4 linked regions of the Homo sapiens genome follow. The protein of the gene in region 3 purifies or fractionates together with the protein of the main gene of each other region. This does not show direct contact. Each region holds a gene or a part of one and is shown on either strand. Other genes may lie near its edges.

Region 1 (7,534 bases), on a different chromosome or scaffold from region 3:
GCACATGTATACCTATGTAACAAACCTGAACGTTCTACACATGTATCCCAGAACTTAAAGTATAATAAAAAAAAATTTAAAAAAGACTCTGTCTCAAAAATAAATAAATAAATAAATAGAGCCTTATAACTCACTGTAGCCTTAAGCAGTTCTCCCACCTCAGCCTCCTGAGTAGCTGGAACTACAGGTGCCTATTCACTCTTACTGCTATATGATAATCCATTATATGAATATACCACAATATATTTCTCTTTTCTCCTGTTAATGAACATTTGGATCGTTTGTAGTTTGGAGCTATTATGAATACTGCTGAGATGAACATTTTAGTACCATATTTTGGTGAACATATGCATGCATTTCTGTTTTATGGGTGTATAGCTAGGAGTAGAGTGTATACCATTGAGTGTATACCTAGGATTGGAATTTTTGGATCATAAGGTAGGTATACGTCCTAATAAATATTGCTAAACATTAAAAAAAAAAGAAAAGATCCTTACTAAACGAAAGCAATAAGACTTTGTCTTGTATGGTGGATAAACTGAGAAATTAGAATACATACTTGGAATTTGGATATTAAAGAATAAAATAATTTAGCTGGCTCTGATAATGGTGGTTATGTTAAAAGGACATATTCTATTCAATTAGAGGTGCACACTGAAATATTTATGGGTATGAAGACACAATATCTGGGATTTGCTTTCAAGTAGTCCAGGAAAAACAAAAAAGAGGATGTGATAGATGAAACAAATTGGGCAGAACGTTGGTAATTATTGAAACTGGAGGATGGCTATAGAGTGGCTCTTTATAGTACTTGTCACTTTCTTATTAAAGTTTTCTACTTTTAAAAAGTTAAAAAAAAATTATAAATATATTTTTTAAAGTGTGATTCTAAAATCTGGCTGATCATCCAGATCACCCGAGGAGCTTAAAAAAGTAGATTCTGGGAGCTGCGCAGTCCTGCTGAATCAGTCGTCTGTGAGTCCATTTGTACTGGATGGGAGGTGGGGATGAAGGCTTGCGCATGGAGGAATGTGTTATTTTTTAATTTCCTGGTTCTGGCAGCCAGCACAGCCACGCTGCCTCCTCTGCTTTGTCTGACCCAGGAGATCTTACATCAGTCTTCCTTCCTGCCTGCCTACTTCTCTCTTTCCTGTCTTTCCCTCCTCCTCCCTCTTGTTTTCTCTTTCTTCACTTTATAAAAGTTTAGGGCAGGAAGCTTAAAAGGGCCACAGGGTCCTAGCATCCCTTTCCTCTTCCCATCAGAGGAAGAGTGTCTTCATTGTCAAGCGGGGGCTTGTGCTTGAGGACTGGGCCTGGACCTCATACAGTTATTATTTATGAAAAGCTGCCTTGCTACCATGGATGAGAGATGTGTGCATTGCTCAGGTGCACCTCAAAATAAAGCTGCTTAGGAAGCACAGTCTTAATATCCAAGCCTTTCTTTTTCTTTCAGCATTCATCAATTGAAAACATCACAATCTGTTCTTAAATAATTTATTTTTTAATGTTGACTCTTGTGAAAAGTTACATTTATTTAGAAAAACTTGAAGAAATCCAACAAAGAATAGGTGGCTTTCTATTAGGGACAATTAAATGTGCAAATTTCAAATACTTTTTATAATAAGTATAAATAATTACTTTTTTTCACATTAAGAATGGAAATAATGATCAACACAAAATATTAAGATATCAACTTTAAGAGAATTAGATGAAAACACTGAAGTTTATTTGGTATCTTTGGAAAGAAATTATAAAGATTCGTCTGGGAAAAACTTAGGGGGCTCTAAGGGGAAAGTGTGCCTAATAGTATGAGTAAAGGCTGTGTAGAGTTATGGATCACAAATATTTTCAGGCCATAAGTACAGACCCCCAAAATGGCAGCCTTTATCTCTGGGGAAAATGCATTTCCCCTCCTTTTTTTTTTTTCTTCTAGAGCAAATATGACAGCAACCACAAAGCACACAGAGAAACTGTAAGCCAGCAACAGAAAGAGATTTCCTCATACTCATGGTTACTGGCTTTTGCTGTCCCAATACCAGGGTACCATGGGATGCAGGGGACTTCCCAGCCCCCCCAGGACACAGTGTTAACAGAAAATAAAACCATCACAAAAGGCCACATCTTTCCCTGTGACCATTGCCAGTCTCATCCCTGCTCCTTCCCTATCTCATCTCCAAGGAGGTAGGACACTCAGAGGCATTAACAGAACACAGAGTATAGTTTTTTATTACATAGCTGGAGTTTCATAAGGAGAAGCACGAAACATCGATGAATATGTATGTATACCTTGGATGCAATTCCTTCTTTCCTGGGGAGGCAAGCAAAAGTGTATCAAAGAGGCCAATTTACTCCCTGTGGTCAGGAACTTGCCCACAGCCTGACTCAAAGCAAGGATGTTCTCTCAGGAGAACACTGTGGCATTTTCCCCAGAGCTGAAGAAATATCTTCACTTAAATAATCTTGAAGTTTGTAATAAAATAAATAAAGTGAATTACACAAAAAGGACTAGAGCTCCCTTTAAAAAGGCAGCTGGTTGAGTTTATGCAAGCAGTGTATACACAAGCTCATGCCCCAACAACAACCAGAAAACAGGTTATTATTATTTAGCCTTCCTATTGTACTTCTAGGGCAGCATTTCAATATAATTTAAAAAAATCCCTCATACATAATGTAAGGGTATATTATATATGTACACACTTTTACTCCTCAGTTCAAGCTAACTTCTTTAGAAGTAAAGACAGTAATAACCCAAAGAGTTACACGTCTTCCCAGTAAAATATTCTAATTTTTTAAAAGGTGCATATTATAAAGAGCAGCTTGTTTTTCTGTCAATGTGAACATGTTCAGTCTCAGCAGCCTCAGAATCACAGTCCATGGATGGTTCTGCATTTCTGCCGGGTCCTCAGGAAAGGAACCGGGCAGGTAGGGAAAAACCATGAACTACAAACACTCTCTGAATACGTCCATTTTCCCTGAGCTTCCTTGAGCTTCTTGCAGAGGGCCTCGCTGCCATGAGGATCTGGCTTCACATCTCTGAGAGATGCTGGGGGAGGGGAGGTGGAATGGCTCTGGCTTCTCCAACCCACGCGACTTGTGTGTCTTTTCCCTTTCTCAGCCAAGACGATGAAGCAGTCCTGATGCGCAGGGTGCAGGGGCCTCGGCCAGTCCCCGCACACCTTCCAAGTCCAAAGAAGTTCCTGGCCTCCTGCTTGGTAGGAGAGGAGGAACCTTGGGCTGAATCTGACATCATCCCTTGCCAGTTACAAGCTTTGCTTTCTAAGGCCACCTGGGAACACTCCCGGGTTACCAAACCTGAGCATCGTGGGCACCACGAAGAGCTTATCTTTCCTCTCCTGCTCAGACACCCTTAAGCCCACTGTTGCAGTGGCAGCTGAGGGGTTCAGAGGATAGCACCATGATGACTGACAGCTCGAGGCCCCACTTCTTGCAGGAGGTGACCCACCTGTTTCCGGTTAGCCATACATCTGCTTGAACTGAAAGCATTCGTTGCAGTAGCCGTTGCACTTGGCATTGCCAAAATGATCACAGGCGGGGGCCCGGCAACGCTGCTTGGGGGGGTCTTCGGGGGCAGGCTCACCCCGGTGGGCCCCAGGGCCCATCCTCTGGTTGGGATGCTGACACTCCATGCAGAGCTCCTCGCTGCGGCAGGCCAGGATGTTCTTGCAGGAGGCCCGGGCGCACTTGGGCCTTGAGGTGCTTTGTGTGGTTCGAGGCACATCTCTGCGCTGGCTCGATCTCTGAGTGGAAAGAACAGGCAGATCATTAAAAAGTCAGGAAACTATTGCTCACATTTCTTAGGGAGAGCACAATGAAATCTCATTGGAGAGTGTGGAGTCTACAAAGAGCTTTACCTGCCTGAGCAAGGGAACAGGAGAGCATTGCAGTCTATGAGCCAGAGCTCTCGAAGGATGTTTCTTTCCAGTCTCAAGGAAAGCTGACTTGGCCCCCAGGGAGGCTGAGGAAAACCGCCAAGCCTAAGTTGGCCTGCAAACTTTCCCTGGCTCTCTTCTGTTGGGACCAAAAACCACTGTTCTTACATAGCTTCCCTACCATTCTGTGAGCAACAGGCGACACACCTATCTGTCAAAGCTGGCTTTTCTGACGCGCCATTAGGTGGAGGCAGGCCCCTGGGAAGCTCTGTCTGTTCGCTCCTTATGATAAAGGATTATTTAAGAAGGGCTGCTTTTTAGATGTCTGTGCTTCTCTTACAAATCAAAGAAGCCTCTGATCACCATCTGGCTTTTTGGAGGCTTGAAGAAGTTTTATGCAATGGCTGTGTTTCTTTGTTTTTAAAATAAATTTGAAAGCATACTTGGAGCATGAAAATTGGAGGTAGCATTTCGGACCTGGGGAGCCACAGTGACATGGACATTCCCCTTCAGGTTCTGAATTAATCCTTTATCATGAGGAGACAGAACCTGGCAGAGAGGAAAGCCTGCTTGTCACTGTCGGTAGAAAACGCTCCAGCAAAAAGCATCGAACACACGGGAGGGAGGGAAAGCTCCTCCAAGTGTCTCACCAGTTGCTCTTCTGTCCTTTTGGCCTCATGAAATCTCTGATTCTGAGCTTCAATGAAACACTTCTGGCAGTATCCTTCAAACATGGTGCTTCCAAGGGTGCCGCATTCCCTCCCCAGGCACGGAATGGTGTTCTGGAACCTGGACGCTGTGGGACTGACTTTCCCTGAGGCAGCAGCAAAATCTACATGAGAATGGATGCTAGTTAGTACCACATAGGGGTCACCCCACCGATACAGAGATGCTGACAGTAGAGAAATAAATGGGTTCCAAATACAGATTAGGCCAGCCTTAAATGTATAGAAATATATATATGTATATGTTTAAGTCTATAAATTCAGCAAAAGAAATAACATCCCTATTATGGAAACATCTTTGGCTTTACCAATCTCTCATTTTGAACTTGAAGCACTGATTGCTCACAGGAACAGGCAAGGAGCAGGCATTACCTGATCACCCTTCTTTCCAATGAGAGATTTCCAAACCACATCTGTTTCCTTACAGTGTCAACAGAGACTTCCTTCTCTCCAGTTACTACTCTTCAGATTTTAAGATTGTTCTGTTATATCTAAGTTGCAAAATAAGTCTAGTTTAAACTTAGACTCTCTTAGATATGCCAGACCTGAATGGTCTAGTAAAAGCACATCCCATGAGCTCTGTCTACAGGGCACTCTGGTTTTTGGAATGTGATATTAGGAGCTGCTGTAATCACGCAGTGCCTTTTGCCTCCATGGGCGGCTGGCAGGGCCACCGTGACTGTCCCCTGCACAAGCTGGTAGAAAAGCACGGTAGGTCCTGACAGTTCTGCCTGACTGCCTACATGGGCTTTTTTTCTTAAAGGTCAGGAACAAAACCCCTTCTGGACAGCAGCCGCTGTGTTAGGAAGTCAACCACTTCACTCACGTTTGTTTTCTCTGTACTCGATGAAACACAGTGTGCAAAAGCCCTTGTTTTCTGGAGTCCCAAAATACACGCAGCCGGCTTTTCTGCACTTGCTCGTCCCCGTCCTGTCCCCAGGAGTCCGTGCAGCTTGAGACAGGCAGCCAGCAGGGGCGTCGTTTCCAGCTCTGTGGCAAGAATGCGGGGAGGGGCTCCGGACGAGCCGCGAGGGATCTGACTTGGAACGCTGGTGACAGGAAGGAGGGAGGCTGGTGCTGAGGCTGGAGGAGGCCTCTGCTGTAGTCCTTTTGAAGCAAGTACTGCAGATCCCATTAAATGTCCTGGTAACATCCTGGAGGCAGGCTTGGCACTTCCCGGGATCCAAGTGCCTTGTGTGGTCTGGGGCGTGGCTGGCGTGAAGTTGCCGGGCGTTGTGGCAACGTTCACAAAATCCGTTGTGCTGCACATTCAGTGTGAAGGGGCAGCCGGGGCTCCTGCACTTCATGGCAGTGGTCTCACTGAACAGAAAAGGGCTGGGTGCTGTCGGTGGGGCCGAATGAGGCCCCCCAGTGGACTCCTCAGGGTTCCACGCCAAGGGCTCATAGGCTTCTCCCCGAGAGGCCCCGAGCGCCATGCCAGGGAGCCCCTCAGGGCCCGGCTTGGAGTTCAGCTTTGGGAGTTTGTTTTGATTCTTTTGCCGCCTCTCTGAGCACTCATGGCATAAAGGCTGGGTGTTCACAGACATGAAGAAGGGGCAGTTGGGCGTTTCACATTTTACATCCATGAGAGAAAGCTGGGGCACGGAAGGTTCCATGGGATTCTGGGCGTGCCCCTCTCTCCTCCCCTGCTCGCTGTTTTCCTGCCATTTCTTGTACTCATGCTGAACAAGTTCAAAGTAATCATCTACCAGATTGATTTCTTTTGGTAAGTTAGCTTCATCCAACCTGAAGACCAAAAGGAAAAAATATGTATGAGAATACACAAAATCACACACAAGATTTTACATCATTAGCTCATAGAACAAAGTTTTAGAATGTGGATTATGGCAAGAATTGTAGAACCATTCACTGAAATGCAGGCCTGTGATGAAGAGCTCACACTTTTCACGCAACATGATCTGACACATTTCCCAACATGTTCGAGTCAAGAATGATGTCAGTTAGTTTGCTAAGACTTCCTTATTTTTAAAATCACAGTTTCATTTAATCAATCTTGGTCCATCCAAAAATTATAGATAGTTCTAAAACAAGGGCTAAGAAAAATCAGTTGACTTTCCAATTTCTCAGAGATCAAATTCTGAGTAAAATATTACTGAGGCCATTGGTTTGGGACTAGTCTACTTTATAGTACAAACTACTTTGGAACCTCAGGTTGGGTATTTTGCTGTTACTAACTTTAAACTTGTGTCTAGTCTCCACCAGCATTAGCAGCCATGAGTAACTAAGACGCAGACACACTCAAAGGCGCTTGTCTATTTACTGTTGACTCTGTAATTTGCTAATCTCCACATTGAGAGACAGATTCTCTTACGGCTTCCTTGTCATCTGTTGTGCGTTTCAAGTGCTCAGAAACAGGCATCTCTTTAACATAAAGCCAATGTTTAAAGACCGGATACCTGCACAATGGGTATTCTGGGGCTTTCCTCCCATTTCCATGTGGCAGAATCATGAGCTGCAACATAAACAATTCTACAGCTCCATCTATGTCTGATGTGCCTGTTCTTACCAAGAAGCCAAGAGAGAAAGGCTTTTGTTTCCAAGTGTTTTCACTAGTCTTTTTAATATGTACCAGAGTAATTAAAATACAAAAACAAGAAACAACAACTATCCTTGATGTAAATGCACTTTGAAAACCCATAATTCTGCAATTCTGACTTTTGGGATCCAGATATCCAGGAAAATCATTATGGATAAATGACATGTTTTGATTTGAAACCCAAGTTAGTACTGCCTTACATAATCCTCTCTAACCATGCACAAGACTCTGAATTTGTTTCCCATTGGCAGAAACTGGCCGCAAATCACTCTACTGTTGAGCTTCAGGGTGGCAGCAACTCAGGTGGCTGAGGTTAAAGACAGTTACAGATGACACAGGAGAGAGCTGAACATAAACTGCTT
Region 2 (8,964 bases), on a different chromosome or scaffold from region 3:
CCTTGGATCAGCCAAGCGAAACTTGGAGCTTTGACAAGGAACTTTCCTAAGAAACCGCTGATAACCAGGACAAAACACAACCAAGGGTACACGCAGGCATGCACGGGTTTCCTGCCCAGCGACGGCTTAAGCCAGCCCCCGACTGGCCTGGCCACACTGCTCTCCAGTAGCACAGATGTCTGCTCCTCCTCTTGAACTTGGGTGGGAAACCCCACCCAAAAGCCCCCTTTGTTACTTAGGCAATTCCCCTTCCCTGACTCCCGAGGGCTAGGGCTAGAGCAGACCCGGGTAAGTAAAGGCAGACCCAGGGCTCCTCTAGCCTCATACCCGTGCCCTCACAGAGCCATGCCCCGGCACCTCTGCCCTGTGTCTTTCATACCTCTACATGTCTGCTTGAGATATTTCCTCAGCCTGAAAGTTTCCCCAACCATCTGCCAGAGAACTCCTATGCATCCCTTAGAACCCTGCTCAGACACCATTACTTTTGTGAACGCTTCTGCCACATCTTGTCTTCCCCAAAATTGATCACTCCGCCTTCTCCTGGGCTCCCGTAGCACACTATAACATCTGCTGGAGTGTTGCTGTTGCACCATACTTTCTTGTACATTTGTGTCTCCCTTCCCAACTAGACTGTAAGTGCCTTGCGGTCAGGGACTGAATCTTGCCCGTTTATGTATGCTCCATGTCTAGCCCATCATCCTGCTTGGAGCAAGTAGGCAGGAGCTCAATAAATGTTTGTTGCATGAAGGAATGTCTGGAGAGCTGGATGGGGCATCATGAAGAGGGTAGGGGGTGGATACAAGTCATCACCCAAGCTTCTGGGAGGTCCTGGGGCTGGGAGAGGGTACAGACTCCCATGCCCCTTGGCTGCACCATGGAAGTGACCATTCTTCACGGGGTCTTAAGAGGGACAAACGTTCTGGTGAATTCCTCCATGGGTGTTGCTGAGCGTCTGCTATGTGCCCATGGCCATGTTAGGGTGGAAGGGGGAAGACATGATGCCACCCCTTCAGGGGACCTACCTCACAGTGTTTGGGGAGACTTGCCCTCTCCACTGTCTGAACCTCCTTTTCCTTCTCTGCTTTAGTCACCATCATCACTAACCTCCCCATCCCCCACTCCACTTGCTGAGTCCCACTTACCACCTGGCGGCAATGAACCCTCATCTGCCTGCCTCCCATCAGCTGTCTGGTGGTGGTGGAGGATGATGAGGCTCAGGCCAGTTTCTCCTGGAAATGCAAAGCCTTATATGGTCTTATTGGTACATGATTGCAGAGAGGGGCACAGGGAATCCTCCCAGCTTTAGTAAAGGAGAGACTGAGGTCCAGGGAGGGGCTGAAGGATGTGCGAGTGGAACTCCAGCTCTCCGATCCTTGTTTCTCCCCCACTCCAGCATAAGACCTGGAATCCAGAAGTGACCCTTTCTCACCATCTTTGGGGATTCTGTCCCTGCCACCTTAGTCTTATTCATCTTAATTGCAGTCTCCCTGTTCTGAGGAGCCAAAGGAGGAAGAGACTTTCGGGGAAAGAGGAGAAGGAGCTGGTGACAGGGGTAGGAAGGTAGACAGGGTCATGACCTGAAACGGTGTGACGACTGCTGACTTCCCTTTCCTGGACTTGAGCTGATGAAGGGGAAATGGTGTTGCAGTCTCCTCTGTCAGAGCCCTCAGGTGCAGACGGCACTTGTCTGCCCCCTCAGCCTCAGCCTTGGCCCACCTGGTCCCCAGTGCCCTCTCCTCTGGCTGGGGCAGGAGGACCTGCCGGACATAGCCAGATGTATTACGGATGACTGCAGTCAGCTCCCCCAGGCTCCTGCTTCTCTTGCCTCCTGCTTTTTTCCCCAGAGCTGTCTCCTTATCTCCATTCACTTGTCTATGGGTTACTCCTGGACCCTGGGGTTAGGAGTTGGAATCAGGCTGTTAGCGATAAAAGGGTTCAAGTTGACTCATTTTCCTTATCAGGCTTAGTAGTTGAAGTGACTTGCTGAGCTTCATAATTCTTAGAGAACCTGCCATGAACCCAGCTCCCTTTCTATGACTCACCCTGCCACCCTGTGACACATAGAGTCTGAATGGCAGGTCTGGGGCTAGAACCCACGTCATCTGGACTTGGAGTCCAGTGACCCTTTGGGTTAAGCATGTGTGTGTGTGTGTGTGTGCCATGATGCGGGAGGAAGGTCCCTGCTCTCTGTAGCTGTTTTCTTCATCCTTTGCTCTACAAGCCCTAACAGCCGATTCTGTCATCCCTAGTCTGCCCCTCTCCTGTTTCTCCATCTCCTCTGACCATGATTTTTTTCTGTCCCTGGAGGGATGATGGTCTCATTCTCACCTCCTCCACGAAACGTGTTAGCTTTTCATATTCCTAGATCCACTCACTTCTCATCATCTTTTTTTTTAAACAAAATTTTATTGAAAAATGTAATATGACGTGTCAAAGTTGTAAAGTTATTGAGTAAATAAGCATGTATCCTAAATATTGAAAAATATTCTCCTTTTGTACCAGGCTATGTGTCACGGCTTTGGCGCTTTGCACAGACTATTAGAAATACCTTATAACATTAAAAATAGGACATTGAGGCCGGGCGTGGTGGCTCATGCCTGTAATCCCAGCACTTTGGGAGGCCAGGGTGGGTGGATCACCTGAAGTCAGGAGTTTGAGACCAGCCTGGCTAACACGGTGAAACCCCGTCTCTACTAAATACAAAAAATTAGCCGGGCATGATGGCACATGCCTATAATCCTAGCTACTCGGGAGGCTGAGGCAGGAGAATTGCTTGAATCCGGGAGTCAGAGGTTGCAGTGAGCCGAGATTGTGCCACTGCACTTCAGCCTGGGCAACAAGAGTGAAACTCTATCAAAAAAAAAAATAGGACATTGAAGTTGGTTTCTTTTTTTGATACAGAGTCTCGCTCTGTCACCCAGGCTGGAGTGCACTGGCAGGATCTCGGCTCACTGCAACCTCTGCCTCCTGGGTTCAAGCAATTCTCCTGCCTCAGCCTCCTGAGTAGCTGGGATTACAGGCACGCGCCACCACGCCTGGCTAATTTTGTATATTTAGTAGAGACAGGGTTTCACCATGTTGGTCAGGTTGGTCTCGAACTCCTGACCTTGTGATCCGCCCACCTCAGCCTCCCAAAGTGCTGGGATTGCAGGCGTGAGCCACCGCACTCTGCTTTTTTTTTTTTTTTTTGCCGCCCTCTCACATACCATACTCCCCTGTATCACTTATCCTTCTGAAGTTGTTATTAATCATTAATACAACTAGCTGGGCATAGTGGTGTGCGATGGTAGTCTTAGCCACTCGGAAGGCTGATGTGGGAGGCTAGCTTGAGGCCAGTAGTTCTAGGTTAGGTGAGCTATGATTGCACCATTGCACTTTAGCCTGGGTGAGAGCAAGCTCCTGTTTCAAAAAAAAAATTAATTGCTACCACTTACTAAATGCTTAATATATGGCAAACACTTGCCAAACACTTTATATGCTTGATTTAAGCATCAAGCTAGCTCTGTGAAGGGTACCAGCAGGTTTCCCATTTTTTAGATGAGCAGACCGAGGTTCTTCTCGCTGCTTCATACTGGAAACTTGCACTTGATTCTGAGGCTCCTGCTTCTTCAAGAACACTGCTTTGGGTTCGCTTCTCCTGTCCCTGGGGTCTCCCTTTGTGATGGTGGTGAGCTGCTTCCTTTCTGAATCCAGCTTCAACCCTACAGTTCTCCAGAAGCTGGACGATGGGGTGGAGTAAAGTCAGCTCCCCCCGCAGTGAGGGACACTGAAGCTCCATTCTCATCTGCGGATCACAGAGGGGAAGCCAGGAAGAGCCAGGGGACGGTGGACTTGGGGCTGGGAGGTCATCTCAGAGGGATAAGGGGTGAGGAGCTCTGGTTTCAAGTTCCAAAGCCCTAGGACCTCCCTCTTCTCTGTCTGCCTGCATTTCTAGCAGCCTCAGCAGCTGCAGGCCCTTGGGCGGGGCTGGATGTAGGGAAGGTCATTGTACCAAGAAGATAGTTGGGTAAATGTGGTACCTTTGTTGTAGGATTCTCTTGGGAGATGTCTGCATCAATGAGGATGGCATAAAGTAACCAGAGTCAGGATGTGGGGTCTGACTCAGTGACAGAAAAAGTGGCAGTGTGTCTCTCATAGCCAAAGGGGCCCTTGGACCGGCAGTCGGGAGTCTGGGGTTCTCTGTTGGCTCTGCCTCCTGGCACATTGGGTTTCTGGACCTCAGTTTTCTCCTCTATAAAACCGGGCAGTTGGGTGGGCACGGTGGCTCACACCTGTAATCCTAGCACTTTAGGAGGCTGAGGTGGGCAGATCATTTGGGCCCAGGAGTTCAAGACCTGCCTGTGTAACATGGTGAGACCCTGTCTCTACAAAAAATACAAAAATTACCCAGGCGTGGTGGTATGCACCTATAGTCCCAGCTGCTTGGGAGGCTGAGGTGGGAGGATTACTTGAACCTGGGAGGTCGAGGCTGCAGTGAGCTGCGATGGTACCACTGCACTCCAGCCTGGGAAACGGAGCGGACCCTCAAAACAAAAACAAAAATGAAAAACAAGCAAACGAAGAAATAAAAAAACCTAGGGGGTTGTAGTCGATGATCTGTAAGGTGAGTTATAATTGATGTATTGGAATATTTAGGAAAAGGGCACTGGGAATATGCTAGGAACACCTGATGGAGGTATCTTTATTTCCACGGCAGCTTCGTGGATACGTCTCATTGATTCTCATGGCATCACTTTCCCCATGTAGGTGGGCAGACATTGTTACCCCTGTTTAATAAACAAGGAACCAACAGAGGCTTAGGAGAGGAGTTGCCTGATGTCGCATGATTGGTGGCAGAGCCAGGATCAACAGTGGGGCAGGGTGGGGGGACCTGGCCAGGCAGAGACTGGATGAGACCTGGGGTGAGGAATGGCAGGCACCCAGTCAGGGCAGAAAACGAGGGTTGGGACTTACTTTGAGTTTTGGATTGGATCAGTAAATTCCCAAGAAAGAGGGAGACTAGGAGGCTAGTGAAGAACTCTGGAGTAAAGGGGAGGATTACTAAGGGACATGGAGTACCTATCATGTGTCGGACGCTTATCTATATCTCTCCCATCTGAACAAATCCTTACAGGAACCCCAGGAGACAGGTTATCTCCACTCTGCAAATTGGAAAACAGATCCAGACAGTTTCAGTTATGTGTCTGAGAAGTTCATTTATGTGTCCAAGACACATTCTTAGCTAAAAAGCTAAGCATTCTGAATTGGAACCCAGAGAATTTGACTCCCAGACTCTGGATCTTTTCACTGCTGTGATCCATCTGGGAAAGGCTAGTGATGTGGGCAAGGGGCTTATTGCCCCTTGGTGTTTGGTTGGGAGTGGTCGGATTGGTGGGTTGGGGGCACAAGGCAGCCAGATCTGGGACTCCTGTGCTTGTGACTGGACTACAAAGAGTTAAAGAACGTTGGGCCTCCTCCTCCCGCCTCCTGTGGCCTCCTCCTCCAGCTCTTCCTGTCCCGCTGTTGCAACACTGCCTCACTCTTCCCCTCCCACCTTCTCTCCCCTCCTCTCTGCTTTAATTTTCTCAGAATTCTCTGGACTGAGGCTCCAGTTCTGGCCTTTGGGGTTCAAGATCACTGGGACCAGGCCGTGATCTCTATGCCCGAGTCTCAACCCTCAACTGTCACCCCAAGGCACTTGGGACGTCCTGGACAGACCGAGTCCCGGGAAGCCCCAGCACTGCCGCTGCCACACTGCCCTGAGCCCAAATGGGGGAGTGAGAGGCCATAGCTGTCTGGCATGGGCCTCTCCACCGTGCCTGACCTGCTGCTGCCACTGGTGAGACCAGGGACAAAGGGAAGAGTGGGCTGGTGGGCGAGGCACCTTCCGGCTGGCGTGGGCCCTCTCCGGGAGGGGGCCGAGCCTCTCCTGCCCGGGCCTGGTCCTGGCGCCAGCCTCAGGCCTGCAGGTCCTAACCTCAGCCACTGCCAGTGTGGGGTTCCCCATTCATCCGCCTTTTGGAGTAGGGGCTGCGCTGAGGCAGGGGAATGGGAGAAGTTTGAAAGGGAGAGAGTAAAAGGAAGCCCTGGCCCCTGACAGCGGTGGAAGTTTGTGGGCGGCCAAGGGAATGTGGGCAGGAGATAGGCCCAGGGTGGGGCAGATTTGGCGGGGAAAAGAAGGGAGTGGGAGTAGGAAGATTAGTGCTCGGGGAGTCCAGACGGTTCTGAATTCTGTCCCTCCGGTCAGCTGGCTGGCCTGGAGGGTGTTGGGCCGTGGGGAGGCGAGGCTGCCTGTGGAACTTGGTGGAGCACACCCTGTAGGGCAGGATTTTGGCGGCTGGTGAAGTGGGGGAGTGAGTTGAGGAGTGGGGATGGGCTGGTGTGGTGGGTTTGGGATGCTCATGGTGGGAGGTATTTGAGAATGGGCTGGGACACTGGATGGGGCAGGGCAACCCAGTGGACAGTGTCCCCAGTGCCCTGGCCAAGCCCCGGCCTCTCACCTGGGGACATTCTTTACCCTTTTGCCTGCTGCTAGGCAGGTAGCCGCTGTGGGACTGAGCCTTCCCAGGGAGCTAGTCCTACCCCCACCTGGTCAGTGTCCCTGGGCCTGTCCTCCAGCTTCCCCTCCCCGCTGCTTCTCACAGACCTAAACAACAATCCCTTGGTTTCTTATTCTACAGTTCAGTTTGGGGAAGTTGGTAGAAAGTTGTTTTCGTCACTGGAAAATGTCCCTTTCTCTGGCCTCAGCCTTGTTTCAATGTATCCTTGATCGTCCTCCACGTCTTGGTCCGGGAATCATCCTGTTCAGATGTCCTGGGCCCATCTAGTCAGGCAGATTTTCCCTGCCCTGCCCGGCCTCTGAAGGCTGCGCCTACCTCCCCTCTCTTTAGTGCCTTATACTCTTCCTCTCCTACCATTCCTTTCTTCCAGCAATCTCCCCAGACTCTCCTCAGACTTCTCAGAGCCTCTTTTTTTGAAATCTTTTCTCGCTAATCCTCCTTCCCCTCCTCTCTGCTCCGCTCTGGTCCCGGCCCCAGGTCCCCAGGCAGCACGTCTCTGGTCAGGGTCTCACTCTTCTTCTTCTGCCTCCTCCTGCCTCCTTAGTCCCACCCGCTCTTCCCTTCTTCCCACTGTCCTTCCCCCACGGTCTCCCCACCAGCCAGCTGCCCTGACATCCTGCTTCTGTTTTCTGTTTGGGGGCGGCCCCTGGCTCCCTCACATACCTCCTGCATGAACAAGAGCAGCTTATATAACCTAACCTTCCATGCCTTCGTTTCTTTATCTCCAAAATGGGTGTCACAGTCTTGACCTCATACTGTTGTTTTGAAGATTGAATAGACTGATACATGTTAAGTGTTCATTTGATTTATTAAGTGTGCGCTCTGGGCTAGACACTGTGATAGGTGCTGGGATTACAGCAGAGAACAAAATCCCTGCCCACAGCTTTGACAGTCCATCAGGGGAATAGGTTGTAGCAAATAGAAAGCACTCAATAAAGTTTTTATATTGCTGTGACTAGTAGTAATTACTGGGTGGCTACCTGTGTTGGGAAAACAGAGGGTAAAGGTAGCCTGAACAGGTAAAGGGAAGTGCCTGCGTCCTGGGGTGCTTCAGCCCAGGTGGGATTATGTCTCCTAAGGGACAGAAGCCTGGCCTGGAGCTGGAGGAAAGGGAAAACAAAGGGAATGCAACATCCTTCTGAATTTCTCACCATTCAGTGGGCAATGCAGAGCTCACAGTGTGTGTGTGTGTGTGTGTGTGTGTGTGTGTGTGAGAGAGAGAGAGAGAGAGAGAGAGAAGTGGGGTAGGGGAGTAGGGAAGAATGATACAGGAGAGACTGTGGCAAAGCAAACAGGATTTTGCTGCTCTCAAAGAGCTTACAGCCTAGTAACCAAGATGGCTTACAGTGAAAAATGATTTCAGAGCAATCCCGAGGAAAATATCCACAAATGCATTGTGATGTGGTGTCCTGGAGCACCAGTTGGGAGGAGGAGGAACTGGGGAAGGAGGTGAGCCTTAGTCCACTGCCTTTCCTTGCTTAGCAGGTCTCAGCTCCTGCGCTCAGCTCCAGAAAATTCAGGAGCTTCCCCACGCTGCTTCAGTGTCCTTCACTGTGCAACTGCAGCACTCCCTGTATAGATCTCAGTGCCTACAACTGACTGTCTTTGACTCAAGTGAGAGCTCTTGAGAGCACGAGCTGTGTATTATCCACCTCAGCATCCCTAGCACCCATACGGGACCTGTCACATTAACTGTGCCCCTTAACTATTTGCTGAAGGAATTAAGGAACAAGAGATGTGTCAGATGGGATGGCGGAGGGAAAGCCTCATAGAAAAGTGGATGTGGAGCTGACATCTGAAGTCACTGCCTGTCAGGGTAGCTATAAAGGAGGGAAGCAGAGTTGGATACTGATGTGAGGAAGAGGAGAGGAATGGAGAGATGGGATTTTGTGTTGATGGGCAGGGTGGCAGGAAGCCAGACACCTTGGTTCGGGAGTGGAAAAACCATGTTGAGAAACACTAAGAAATGTGAATGGGAGAATTAGAGGGAGTGGGGGAGAGGATGGAGGAAGAGTGTTGAATATGGTTCCAGGTGGAGGAATTCATTCATTCGTTTATTCAGAAGCTGTTCTCCTAGGGCACATTCTGTGCCCAGACTGTGATTAGAAGTGAGGTGAGGCATCTCAGATGGGTGCTGTGGTTCATGCCTGTAATTCCAGCACTTCAGGAGGCCGAGGTGTGTGGATTGCTTGAGTCCAGGAGTTCGAGACCAGCCTGGGCAACACAGCAAAACCCTGTCTCTACAAAAAATACAAAGATTAGCGGGGCATGGTGGGGCGTGCTTGTCATCCCAGCTATTCGGGAGACTGAGCTCGGGAGGACGGCTTGGGCCCAGGAGGTGGAGGTTGTAGTGAGCCCTGACCACACCACTACATTCCGTCCTGGTGGTGAAGGTTGCAGTGAGCTATGATTGTGCCACTGCACT
Region 3 (8,747 bases):
TCTTTTTTCCTTCCTTGACAGGAAATATGTACAGGAAGAACAAGGTCCTCTCTGCCTTGTGTTTGTCAGTATTTCTTGTGACTATTTTCTCCTAAACATAAGGTTTTTCTGAGTTCAAGGATTTTGGGGCTGATCAAAGAAGAGATGTGACCACAAGGTGGCAGTAGCATGCAACAAGCTTTATTTGGGTGGTGCTTGACAGACTGCATGTAAGGAGGACATCCCTCACAGCTGGACACCTTCCAGAGGCAGAGGTGTATGGCCACCATGCAGAAGGGGAAGAAGGCAAGGGAACTACTCCTGGGGTAGGGGAGAAGCAGAAATGGGGTTTATCTGTCTAGGATGTTGTACAGCTACAAGATAAGATAGGGAGTCTCTGAGTTAGAGAACTTGGAAGGGCAGCAGAGGTTTGGGGTCTTTTATAGCTCTATGCTTTGTCTTATCTTTGGTTAACAGATGCCAGGTACGGTTTTATCTTTGGCTAGCAGGCAGACTCTAAATGGCTAAAAACATGGCCATCTGAGCTATGTGTGTGTGTGTGTGTGTGTGTGTGTGTGTGTATGTATATATATATATATATATATATATATATATATATATATATATACTTTTTTTTTTCTTTGAGATGGAGTGTTGCTCTGTATCCCAGGCTGGAGTGCAATGTCTCACTGCAACCTCCACCTCCTGGGTTGAAGAGATTCTCCTGCCTCAGCCTCCCAAGTAGCTGGGACTACAGGCATGCACCACCATGCCCGGATAATTTTTGTAATTTTTAGTAGAGATGGGGTTTCACCATGTTGGCCAGGCTGGTCTCAAACTCCTGACCTCAGGCAATCTGCCTGCCTTGGCCTCCCAAAGTGCCGTGATTACAGGCGTAAGCCACTGCACCCGGCCCATCGGAGCTACATTTGAGCAATTACATGGATAAAATTTTGAGCTTAGATAAGGTAAGTTTTGAGCTAATGGTCCCAGACTGACGTGAAGAAGCAAACAATATGCGCCCAATATACTCAGGCCGTCTTTAACACCTTTATTTTCCTAACTTTTAATTCATTGATTTTTGAAACTGGAGTTGCTGAAATTCTAATTTACATTAAATTATTAAGGTTTACTAATTAAGCCTTTAAATAATATTTCTGTAAATTTTTAAAACCTGACTTTTGATACAGATGCCAACATTTTAAAGCTGTCTTGGATTTTAAGAGTCTCAATATTATCTATAAAAATCTTTTTAGCAATTACCTTGGCTGAGTGCTCATATACAAAATAAACTGATTAAATCAAGGGAGCTATTGGATCCTCTCTAGTTCCAAAACCCTAATGAAGGGTTTTATGAAAATTAAAACCCAAAGTCTTACCACAGAAATATAAAGTGACTTTTTTTTTTTAAACAGATGAAAACATAATGCTTGGGATGCCTGCAAGTGACTAAAAGTTGGAAAGGGAAGTTCTGATGTGACCCAAATTTGTAAGTTCTTAATGTCCTATTTGAATTTTTTAAAAAATTCAAAAATTCAGGAATATATGCATGTCATTTGTGTACATACTGACAAAGACTATCTCTTTGACCAAACTTCTGAGCCTCTTCTGAGCCCTCTTCTTGACTAGGCCTTGACTTTGGGCCCTACCCCACCTGTAATTGTCGGCCTACCTCAGTCTTAATAAGAATCCTGTCAGTTTAGTGAGGATCCCGCCACTCTGGGTATCTGATCAAGTTCCTCATTCTCCACTTCTGAAGTATAAGCCCTTAGCCTGCCTTCAGCAAGAATCCTACCACCCCTGATGTCTCCTTTTAGTACTTTTCTATCCACTGACCCTCCTTACTCTACCTGTTGGTTATAAATACCCCAGCTGTCCTTGCTGTATTCCCAGTTGAGCCCAATCTTGCTTCCCTATTACAATGTTTTGATTGCACAGTCCTGAATAAAGTCTTCCTTACCATTTTAACAAACGTCAGAATTTTTTTTTCTTTAACAATACCTCACAACCAATCCTAACATTCTTTTATACTCACCTAACTTAAAAAATAAATAAAACATTACATATACAATTGATGCATAGGAAAAGTTTTTCAATCCCATTCATAATATAGCAATAAAAAATGGTAACTGAACTGAAATACTATTTATTATTTAACAGGTTGGCAACAATCCAAATGTCTGACAACTTACTCCACGGATGAAGCTGTGGGAAAAACAGGCACTCACATACATTGCTGATTGGATTGCAAAATGCCAACATACTCATGGATGGGTATGTGGCCATATTAGGCAAATTTATGTATGGATTTACCATTTGAACTAACTTCTGGGAATATATCCTAAAATAAGATGTGTTCCCATGATTATTCATTACAGCACTATTTGTAATAGCAAAAGGCTGGAAACCACCCAGATGTCCATCCATAGGGAAGTAGCTGAATATATTATGGTACTAATTTTATCTATGGCTGGGGAGCTTATTCAGGCTGGCTCCTTAGTCTTTGACACGGCCCTAACAGTTTTTGGCTGCTTTCTGAATTACATTGTTCAAGTTGAATATATTATGGCACATCTACACAATGGAGTACTATATAGAAATGAGGAATAGCTCTATATGTTAGTATTATACAATCTCTAGAATTTATTATAAAGTGAAAAAAGGTGGAGAAAATGTGCTACTACTGTTTATCTAAGAAAAGGGTAGGTATAAACATGCATAATTACATTTTTAAAATGAAAAAATGAATCATAAAAAGTGTTTAAGTCATTACTTATAGGGCAGGAAGGAAAAAGTAGAGGGGAGACCAAGGATTTTCAAAATAAAGGGAGTTACAGATGTGTAATCAAAGAGGTTAAATAAAACCTTGACTTCCTGAATTTGAATCGGAAGTATCAATGAGTTCATAATATATTTGATTTAAAAGACAAAAACCAAATCAAAACAAACCCATACTAACCAGCTCTGTCCATTGAACAGGTATAGAAACAATCAAACTCATTAACAACACGACAAACATTTTTTGTTTGTTTCTTTGTTGTTCCTTGCAGCGCCAGCTTAAAGGAGACATCCAGATTATGCTCTTTAAATATCATTTCCCACTAAAGGATCCAGGGCACTTAGGAGTAATGGCTTATTATGGGTATGGAGTAAGAAATACACAAAATGAGCCTGGAAAGCAAAGACTACTAGGAAAGTATCAGAAAGACTCAGGAGCCAACCTGAGTAAACTCTCACCGGCCTAAAATAAACAACTTGAGCACTAATAGTGGTAATAGCTACAGTGGATTACAACTCACCAAACTTCTTTAAATCCCTGGATTCATAATGATGGCTGTTTACTTTTGAGGGTTTTTAAAAAAAATCCGGCAGAGATTTTTAAATAGTATATGGTAGTGATCTAATTTTATTTTCCATTAGAATAACCATTCATTCAGCATTACTTATTGAGTAATTAATCATTTTCTCATTAATACATAATGCCAGTATATCAAATTCCCAAATACATAGATATGGGTCTCTTCTTGGGGCTCTGTATCTCCTTCCTTTAATTGTCCATCTTAGGGCGTTTAATAATACAAGACTGTCTCAATTACTATGGCTTTATTGTAACTCATTACCTGGTAGGACAAGACCTTCCAATCTTACTTTTCTTCTTCAAAATTGTTTTAAATACTGTAAATTTTTTTTCTACATAAATGTGAAAAACGTTAGAAGGGCAACTGCAGCAGACATACATAGCTTATTTTTTTAAGATTAACAGCAACTTTATACTAGCAAAATGAAAAAAAATTAACTGAATAAACAGGTAACTGAATTAACTAGCTGTAACACTAGACTACAAAGTTATACAAGATTAAAAGTTATGAGGTACTATTTATTATATGTAAATATTACAAATATTTTTTGTTAAAAATATCTAAGGCTTTTGAGTTTTTGAAATGCAAGCTTTCCCCTATACTTAAGTATATTCATTATCTTACTGCTTTGGTCAGGACAAGAACTGAAAAAGAGAAATAATCTTGAGTTCAGAATGAACAATTCTTGCTATATATATTTTCCCACATGTGTTAGGAATGTTCTGTAAACCTTCCGAGAAATAGTGACTTGAACTAAATACTAAACTACTACCAAGCCCCAGGTGCATTTTTGGAAGTTTTTAGTCATTGGGAGCCATGGCATTTCTTTTCTCTGTATTACAAACTGTTACACTCACTTTCTTTGACTATTAACATTGGAACAGTAGACCTCCTGTTCTGTGACTGACTGGCAGGCAGAAATGACACAGACAGGAAATGGGAAATGGTTCAGGGTCTTGGAATTCCCCCGGCTCCCTAATTAAGTGGCTTGCTATTTGGAAGTTTTTTAAATATTTGCCCCTTGGAGTTCCCCAGAGAGAAGCAAGCATCGGATTCAACGGGCAAAGAGCGTCAACTTCAAAAGTCGTTCGTTGGTTGTCATACCACAAACATTTACTGCACGACACTGTGTCTATGGCACTATTGGGGGAGTATGGCGGGGGGATACAAAAGGTCCATGACTAGCAAAAGCCAAGGGTTTTTATTTACAAATTTTCTATTACCTAAGCATTAAAAAAAATTGGGCTCCTCTCTGGTTTATGTACAATTATATGTGCATGTACACCAATACACAGGCAGACGTATATATTTCATTTTATTGAAACATTCAGAAAATACTGGGAGTGAAGCCTGACTTGCAATACAGTTCTCTTTGCTGGCAATGAGCATCTGAAATAATGACACTTTTTTCTTTAGTGCATATGAACTGTTTGTCTCCAGAACAGAAAACCAAAAGTTTAAAAACAAGATACTCCCGTTGACATCAAGTCTTCAGAATTATTCATCTGATGCTTCCTAGTTTCCAAAGTTTCGCTTTTTTCGATTTGCACAGGCAGCTGTTGAACGCTGATGCTACACAAACGGTTACAATTGTTTACTTAAGCAAAAAATGCCACCAGACTGACTCCATCCTCAAAATGCAGTCATCTGGACGGGGGGAGGCATCACACTTGGGGAGCCTTGCCAGGGGCCAGATCATAACCCTGAGGTGACACAGGGTAGGACGCGCAAAACCACCGGCGCCAGGGCGTTTCCGCAGGGTTTCCCAAAACTCAAACGCAGCGGCTCACGGTTTGCCACGTCCCCCAGGAGAATGGTAGACACAGAGAGGAAATGTGGAGAGGGCACAAACCGCAAGGTGAAGAAAACGAACAAACACCGAGTTGATACGGATAGTCCCCGTTCCCCTGAGGGCCGACCCCGTGACTCCCGATGAGCGTCCAGTTGCGCCGGGCATCCTGGCCTCCCAGCGTCTTTCCCGGAGGTTCATCGCCGCACGGCGGAAAGCGCTCTCGGTTCCGCTTTCCGGCCCCAGCCTCCCGGGCGCCCTCGCGCGGCGGCTAACGCTGGTCCTCGGCCGGGCGCGCTGACGTCATCGTGCGTCAGAGTGAGCCCGGATGGGGCGGCGGGCTTCGGGAGCGCCCGGGCTGATCCGAGCCGAGCGGGCCGTATCTCCTTGTCGGCGCCGCTGATTCCCGGCTCTGCGGAGGCCTCTAGGCAGCCGCGCAGCTTCCGTGTTTGCTGCGCCCGCACTGCGGTGAGTGCTGCTCCTTCCGGGCTCGGGCGGCGTGGGGCGGGTGGGGACGCGAGGGCCCGCGGGGGCCCACTTCCCTGATGTGGCGGCGAACGAGGAAGGACGGGGCCTGAGGCCCTTCGGCCAAGGGTCGAGGGTCGCCGGGGGCTCTCTGCTTTCTACTCTCGCCAAGGTTTTATTGGATTCGGAAGCCCCAACTTCGAGACTTGCAGTCAAAGCGATTTTTAAAATGACTTGTTTTCAAGCCTCTGGCCGCCGCCCACTCTTCTGGCCCTTGGACTTTGACCAAGATGTTTTCTCGCAGTTTTTGCAAGGTTTTAAACTTAGCCCTCGGCGTTCTTTTAATGTAATACATTGAAACGAAGATATTTCGGTGGCGGCGATATTTCATATTTCATAGTTGCCACTGCGCTCTGTCATTCCAGTAGTCGTCTGTTGTGTATTGTGAGAAGCAACTCTGGGAAATTATTGGGTAAATCCCATAGTTTCTATTCTTTTCCCTTCCATCCTATCCCCTGCCCAGCTGCAATTTGCGTAAAGAGAATGCAGCAGTGCGGTGCACGTAGATAAAAATCTTTCATTTAAAGATAGGATATAAGACCGGGTGTAATTAAAGCAATCATGCCAGTGGTCGTAGTGCCGGAGCCACTGTTTCACAGGCCACTGTGTTAGGTTTTGTTTTCGAGTTGCTTTCTGTGGTCGTTGCTTTGAAATTGTAAGGGAATGGCAGAGTTTAAGAGTTTATATTAATGAACTCGTGGTGCATTTTACTGCAGTTTTCCTAGTCGTGGAGAGACTTGATATTACAAACTAACGTTGCTGTCTTAATTCCTGCTGTACTGCTGCTGACAGGGTGTAGTGGAGTGTCTGTCTGTCTTTTTAACCAATGTGCCTTTGCCTCCAGCAGAGTGCCAGAGTTACCTTTAGGCCAGAAAAGGGGAGGAGAGCAAGGACAAAATGTTTCCTGTGTGAAAATTTCCATCTGTCTCTGAAGTTGTGCGTTTTAAAGACACGTATAGTTAGTGCTATGGGGAGTATGTTGCATTTACTTATTTTAATTAATAGCTTTTTCATTTAGAAAGTTGTGACAAATTGCTGGAATTAAGATGTATTATCTAAAGTGTGAATTATTCTTAGACTTTACTGAATAAATTGAAGAGTATGTAAGTTCTATTTGGCATGCACATACAGTTTTCTAAAATACTTTTTGTTTTTTCTTTTCAGATTTACAACCCTGAAGAATCTCCCTATCCCTATTTTGTCCCCCTGCAGTAATAAATCCCATTATGGAGATCTCGAAACTTTATAAAGGGATATAGTTTGAATTCTATGGAGTGTAATTTTGTGTATGAATTATATTTTTAAAACATTGAAGAGTTTTCAGAAAGAAGGCTAGTAGAGTTGATTACTGATACTTTATGCTAAGCAGTACTTTTTTGGTAGTACAATATTTTGTTAGGCGTTTCTGATAACACTAGAAAGGACAAGTTTTATCTTGTGATAAATTGATTAATGTTTACAACATGACTGATAATTATAGCTGAATAGTCCTTAAATGATGAACAGGTTATTTAGTTTTTAAATGCAGTGTAAAAAGTGTGCTGTGGAAATTTTATGGCTAACTAAGTTTATGGAGAAAATACCTTCAGTTGATCAAGAATAATAGTGGTATACAAAGTTAGGAAGAAAGTCAACATGATGCTGCAGGAAATGGAAACAAATACAAATGATATTTAACAAAGATAGAGTTTACAGTTTTTGAACTTTAAGCCAAATTCATTTGACATCAAGCACTATAGCAGGCACAGGTTCAACAAAGCTTGTGGGTATTGACTTCCCCCAAAAGTTGTCAGCTGAAGTAATTTAGCCCACTTAAGTAAATACTATGATGATAAGCTGTGTGAACTTAGCTTTTAAATAGTGTGACCATATGAAGGTTTTAATTACTTTTGTTTATTGGAATAAAATGAGATTTTTTGGGTTGTCATGTTAAAGTGCTTATAGGGAAAGAAGCCTGCATATAATTTTTTACCTTGTGGCATAATCAGTAATTGGTCTGTTATTCAGGCTTCATAGCTTGTAACCAAATATAAATAAAAGGCATAATTTAGGTATTCTATAGTTGCTTAGAATTTTGTTAATATAAATCTCTGTGAAAAATCAAGGAGTTTTAATATTTTCAGAAGTGCATCCACCTTTCAGGGCTTTAAGTTAGTATTACTCAAGATTATGAACAAATAGCACTTAGGTTACCTGAAAGAGTTACTACAACCCCAAAGAGTTGTGTTCTAAGTAGTATCTTGGTAATTCAGAGAGATACTCATCCTACCTGAATATAAACTGAGATAAATCCAGTAAAGAAAGTGTAGTAAATTCTACATAAGAGTCTATCATTGATTTCTTTTTGTGGTAAAAATCTTAGTTCATGTGAAGAAATTTCATGTGAATGTTTTAGCTATCAAACAGTACTGTCACCTACTCATGCACAAAACTGCCTCCCAAAGACTTTTCCCAGGTCCCTCGTATCAAAACATTAAGAGTATAATGGAAGATAGCACGATCTTGTCAGATTGGACAAACAGCAACAAACAAAAAATGAAGTATGACTTTTCCTGTGAACTCTACAGAATGTCTACATATTCAACTTTCCCCGCCGGGGTGCCTGTCTCAGAAAGGAGTCTTGCTCGTGCTGGTTTTTATTATACTGGTGTGAATGACAAGGTCAAATGCTTCTGTTGTGGCCTGATGCTGGATAACTGGAAACTAGGAGACAGTCCTATTCAAAAGCATAAACAGCTATATCCTAGCTGTAGCTTTATTCAGAATCTGGTTTCAGCTAGTCTGGGATCCACCTCTAAGAATACGTCTCCAATGAGAAACAGTTTTGCACATTCATTATCTCCCACCTTGGAACATAGTAGCTTGTTCAGTGGTTCTTACTCCAGCCTTTCTCCAAACCCTCTTAATTCTAGAGCAGTTGAAGACATCTCTTCATCGAGGACTAACCCCTACAGTTATGCAATGAGTACTGAAGAAGCCAGATTTCTTACCTACCATATGTGGCCATTAACTTTTTTGTCACCATCAGAATTGGCAAGAGCTGGTTTTTATTATATAGGACCTGGAGATAGGGTAGCCTGCTTTGCCTGTGGTGG
Region 4 (4,654 bases), on a different chromosome or scaffold from region 3:
GTAGCAAAAAAAGATGATGTGTTGATTTTACTCTAAAATATTTTTCTCTCACACCCATGCCCCCTACTTCCCTACCTCTCAATCATGTTCCCTAACCTATGACTTAGGAAGGGTTTCTGATGATTCTTACCACCTCCTCTGGACCATCACCAGAATTCAGACACCCACAGTGCAGGCAACATAAATAAGTGAAGTGGGCTAGACATAAGGAAAACAATTGCCCAAGCACAGTGATAAGTGGCAACCAACAGCAGCCTCAGTAGAGGGGCTTGGGCAGGGCTGGGGCACAGCGGATGGGGAAGAGTGACCCACAGAGCACTGTCCCATCTGAAGAAGGTGCTTCTCAGACCTTTGCCATGCAAAAGCATGAGGTCAATATTGTCAGATAGTATGATTTTTTAAAAGAAGTTATTCTGGTTTTTATGTGATATCTCCTAATTTTTAAACATTGACAACAAATTTTAAAAATACAACTGTGTGTGCCGATCATGGGAGACTCAAGTAGAACATGTCTGTAGTCCAGATGTTTTCCACCTGTGAGATGTCATTGGCAGAAACCAAAACCAAACACAAAAAATCTCCAAGGAGCAATAAGATCAAATTATATTTTATTCTATTAAAAAATGTTTTTGAAAAAAGATACTTAAATTTTAAAGATAACTTAATTCCTAATGATTTAAAATAATCCAAGCAGAGATGAAAGAGCAAATGCAAATGCATAAAAAGACCCCAGAGCATTGTTAGCAAAAAGCAAATATAGTTAGCCAAGCATATATATATCATAAAAGCAATAAGAAGGCATAAAGCAAGTTTGGGGAGAGCTTATTTAAAACTTGTAAAAATCATTTGAATTTTTAAAAGATTTCAAACAAATTTTGTTTTATTAAAAAAAAAATTTTTTTTGAGACGGGGTCTTGTTCTGTCACCCAAGCTTGAGTGCAGCGGTGTGAACATGGCTCACTGCAGCCTTGACCTCTTGGGTTCAAGCAATCCTCCCACCTCAACCTCCCAAAGTGCTGGGATTATAGACATGAGCCACCATACGTGGCTACTTTCTAATTTTTTTAATGTGGTAGTGTGGAATTTAGCTTTGAAAGAGAATTAAAGTTAATAGAATATTAACAGTGGGCTTATAGTTGATAGATAACAATCTGAATCATAAGCCCTCTATATTCATAGCTGGATTTTGTACGTGTCTGGTATTTATTGCCACCAGCTAAAAACATTCCCAAAGCCTTAAGCATAAGAGAAAGGAGACAGTGTTATTGTTGTTAATATCCTATTTAACTTTAGCTCTTATAAAAAAGTGCAAAACAATTAATAAAGTAGAAAATCTAGAAAATTAGTAAATAAACATAGTGTTATATCTAAATAGTACCATCGGCCAGGCGCGGTGGCTCACGCCTGTAATCCCAGCACTTTGGGAGGCCGAGGTGGGTGGATCACGAGGTCAGGAGATCAAGACCACCCTGGCTAACACAGTGAAACCCTGTCTCTACTAAAAATATTTTTAAAAAATTAGCCAGGTGTGGTGGCGGGCCCCTGTAGTCCCAGCTACTCGGGAGGCTGAGGCAGGAGAATGGCCTGAACCCGGGAGGCGGAGCTTGCGGTGAGCCGAGATCACGCCACTGCACTCCAGCCTGGGCGACAGAGCGAGATTCTGTCTCAAAAAAACAAAACAAAACAAAACAAACAAAATAGCACCATCAATCAGAAGGGAAGACAAGTTTTTTTCTTAGTGTGAAAGTAGGCTGAGGCATCTGTTTCCCCATGTTTTTCTTGTCATCCTTGTTGCTTACTTCATAGTTCACTTCAGTCAGGATGGTGAGAATATCATCGCCTCTGAAATACATCACATAATATTGTGACTGTCTGTGGGGGAAAGCAACTGATGAACTGTCTCCTCTGCTGTGCTCAGAGATAGTTCTGTAGTTCTTTCTCTCAAAATATCAGTCATTTGAAACAATAAGGTGCGAAACCAAGACCTACCCCAGCTTTCCTGGTAAATGGGTTGTCTCAGAGCTTAATAACTTACTTTTGGTTTATTCAGGAACTCTTTTGACCATCAGAAACCTCGGTGTCAGTATTAGAGTTGGTTTCTTTCTCTCCTGACCTGTGTGTCTCTCACTCTTCTCCACGTTACTTGGCTCCCCATTGCTTCAATGCCCCCCAATACTCTCTGCCTCGAATTGACATCGCATCTGCGGATTCATCTTTGATGCAATTAAACTTAAGGCAAGTGAAAGTATAACGTCTCCTGCAGCTACTCCCACCTTCTTCTCACCAGGATCTCTTAGCATTTTTGTTAGGCAACCTCTTCTTCTACCTTGGTAGCTAGCCGCGGAAACCTTGCAGGATTCATGATCTAAGTTACGAAATCTAAGTTAGATTCATGATCTAAGTTACGGGAAATTCTCACTCTTCATATACTCAAAACATGAAATACAGGGCTAGAAGGAACCTGCTATTTATCTCCCATAATGCACCAAGAGGTTTTGAGGATGGTTTGCTATTATAGAACTTTTGACAGAGTTGGAGGATGTTTAAACATTGAATTGGGTTACTGCCTTCTTGGAAGATTTCCAAAACTAGTTGAATTGGCTCAGTCATGTTTTGGCCTAAAGACAGAGAGCTGGAGTATATGACTTTCCTATCCTTTCCTGCTCTGTGATACCCTGATTGTCCTTTGAGGTGCTGAATAAAGGAATAAAGCATCTCAGCTTTTCCATCTATAAACTAAGGATGTTAACACTTGCCACTCTCCCACTTTGTAACTGACCTGGGAAATGCAGCTATGTGATCTACAGCTAGACATTTAGAGTTGAACGGAAACCACTCCCCTTGGACAGTTCTCTGACCTGTTAATGTGATCTAAATCACATAGCACTTTCTAATAGGCTCTGAATATGAGTAGATAGTAGTGTGATGGAGTAGGGGGGGAAGGTAGTGTAACAGTGAGGAGGGCTGAGTAGGCAAAACTTACCGAGGACATCGCTCTCTCAGGCTCTGGCAAAGTGACTGGATGTACCAGGTTCCCTCTGCAGGGTTTCGGTAGGAAACACAGTTATTCACAGTGGCCATCCCCAGCAGAAAGTCAGCCTCATCCGGGATATATCTCGTTTGAGGTGATGATAAATCCATTTCTAAATAGGGTTGCTCCTCTGAATCAGTCTCAACAGGTATACCTTTCTGGTAGTTATCCCCCTGACAAGCCTGAATAAAAAACACTTTGGGTTTTCCAGCAAGGGAAGGGCACTTCAAACCAGTGAACTGAGATGTCAGCTCATAGATGGGGGCCTCCTGTCCATCAGTGCCATAGATGATGCCCTTGTCTCCATGGGAGAGGATACAGCAGATGAAGCAGTCCATGTTACTGTGGTCCATGAGTTGGTAGATTTTCAAAATCTCATAGATTTGCTCTACTGTGCAGTCATCGTGGGGCTTGATCTCAAAATGAAGCTCTTCAAAGGTCGTGGTCAAAGCCCCTGAAAAGTGAAATTTGAACAGTCACGTTATACCACAGTAATTCACAGACCACAGCTGGAGAGCACAGTGGGCATAACATTGATAGATAAGAATTTGACCCCTCTCCCTCTCCCTCTCCCCGTCTCCCTCTCCCTCTCCCTCTCCCCGTCTCCCTCTCCCTCTCATGCCGAGCCAAAGCTGGACGGTACTGCTGCCATCTCGGCTCACTGCAACCTCCCTGCCTGATTCTCCTGCCTCAGCCTGCCGAGTGCCTGCGATTGCAGGCGCGCGCCGCCACGCCTGACTGGTTTTCGTTTTTTTTTTGGTGGAGATGGGGTTTCGCTGTGTTGGCCGGGCTGGTCTCCAGCTCCTAACCGCGAGTGATCCGCCAGCCTCGGCCTCCCGAGGTGCCGGGATTGCAGATGGAGTCTCGTTCACTCAGTGCTCAATGGTGCCCAGGCTGGAGTGCAGTGGCGTGATCTCGGCTTGCTACAACCACCTCCCAGCCGCCTGCCTTGGCCTCCCAAAGAGCCGAGATTGCAGCCTCTGCCCGGCCGCCACGCCGTCTGGGAAGTGAGGAGCGTCTCTGCTTGGCCACCCATCGTCTGGGATATGAGGAGCCCCTCTGCCTGGCTGCCCAGTGTGGAAAGTGAGGAGCGTCTCTGCCCGGCCGCCATCCCATCTAGGAAGCGAGAAGCGCCTCTTCCCCGCCGCCATCCCATCTAGGAAGTGAGGAGCGTCTCTGCCCGGCCGCCCATCGTCTGAGATGTGGGGAGCACCTCTGCCCCACCGCCCTGTCTGGGATGTGAGGAGCGCCTCTGCTGGGCCGCAACCCTGTCTGGGAGGTGAGGAGTGTCTCTGCCCGGCCGCTCCGTCTGAGAAGTGAGGAAACCCTCTGCCTGGCAACCGCCCCGTCTGAGAAGTGAGGAGCCCCTCCGTCTGGCAACCACCCCGTCTGGGAAGTGAGGAGCGTCTCCGCCCGGCAGCCACCCCGTCCGGGAGGGAGGTGGGGGGGGTCAGCCCCCCGCCCGGCCAGCCGCCCCGTCCGGGAGGTGAGGGGCTCCTCTGCCCGGCCGCCCCTACTGGGAAGTGAGGAGCCCCTCTGCCCGGCCAGCCGCCCCGTCCGGGAGGGAGGCGGGGGGGGGTGGTCGGCCATCCGCCCCGTCCGGGAGGTGAGGGGCGCCTCTGC

The links.
Region 1: the proteins of BIRC2 (region 3) and TNFAIP3 purify together in Homo sapiens (affinity purification with mass spectrometry; 5 studies listed by BioGRID and IntAct, with this or other methods). This does not show direct contact.
Region 2: the proteins of BIRC2 (region 3) and TNFRSF1A purify together in Homo sapiens (affinity purification with western blotting; 9 studies listed by BioGRID and IntAct, with this or other methods). This does not show direct contact.
Region 4: the proteins of BIRC2 (region 3) and CASP8 purify together in Homo sapiens (affinity purification with western blotting; 4 studies listed by BioGRID and IntAct, with this or other methods). This does not show direct contact.

The regions. Positions count from the first base shown.
Region 1 is NC_000006.12:137,877,259-137,884,792, reverse strand, and holds the end of TNFAIP3 (tumor necrosis factor alpha-induced protein 3), read right to left. Parts: intron 6,362-7,534; coding exon 5,442-6,361; intron 4,723-5,441; coding exon 4,541-4,722; intron 3,759-4,540; coding exon 3,474-3,758; 3' UTR 1,481-3,473; downstream 1-1,480. UniProt on the Homo sapiens protein: Ubiquitin-editing enzyme that contains both ubiquitin ligase and deubiquitinase activities.
Region 2 is NC_000012.12:6,338,630-6,347,593, reverse strand, and holds the start of TNFRSF1A (tumor necrosis factor receptor superfamily member 1A isoform 1 precursor), read left to right. Parts: upstream 1-5,517; 5' UTR 5,518-5,779; coding exon 5,780-5,818; intron 5,819-8,964.
Region 3 is NC_000011.10:102,341,782-102,350,528, forward strand, and holds the start of BIRC2 (baculoviral IAP repeat-containing protein 2), read left to right. Parts: upstream 1-5,432; 5' UTR 5,433-5,595; exon of another isoform or gene 5,596-6,064; intron 6,065-6,816; 5' UTR 6,817-8,073; coding exon 8,074-8,747. UniProt on the Homo sapiens protein: Multi-functional protein which regulates not only caspases and apoptosis, but also modulates inflammatory signaling and immunity, mitogenic kinase signaling, and cell proliferation, as well as cell invasion and metastasis.
Region 4 is NC_000002.12:201,283,647-201,288,300, reverse strand, and holds the end of CASP8 (caspase-8 isoform 2 precursor), read right to left. Parts: intron 3,486-4,654; coding exon 2,984-3,485; intron 1,843-2,983; coding exon 1,707-1,842; 3' UTR 592-1,706; downstream 1-591. UniProt on the Homo sapiens protein: Thiol protease that plays a key role in programmed cell death by acting as a molecular switch for apoptosis, necroptosis and pyroptosis, and is required to prevent tissue damage during embryonic development and adulthood.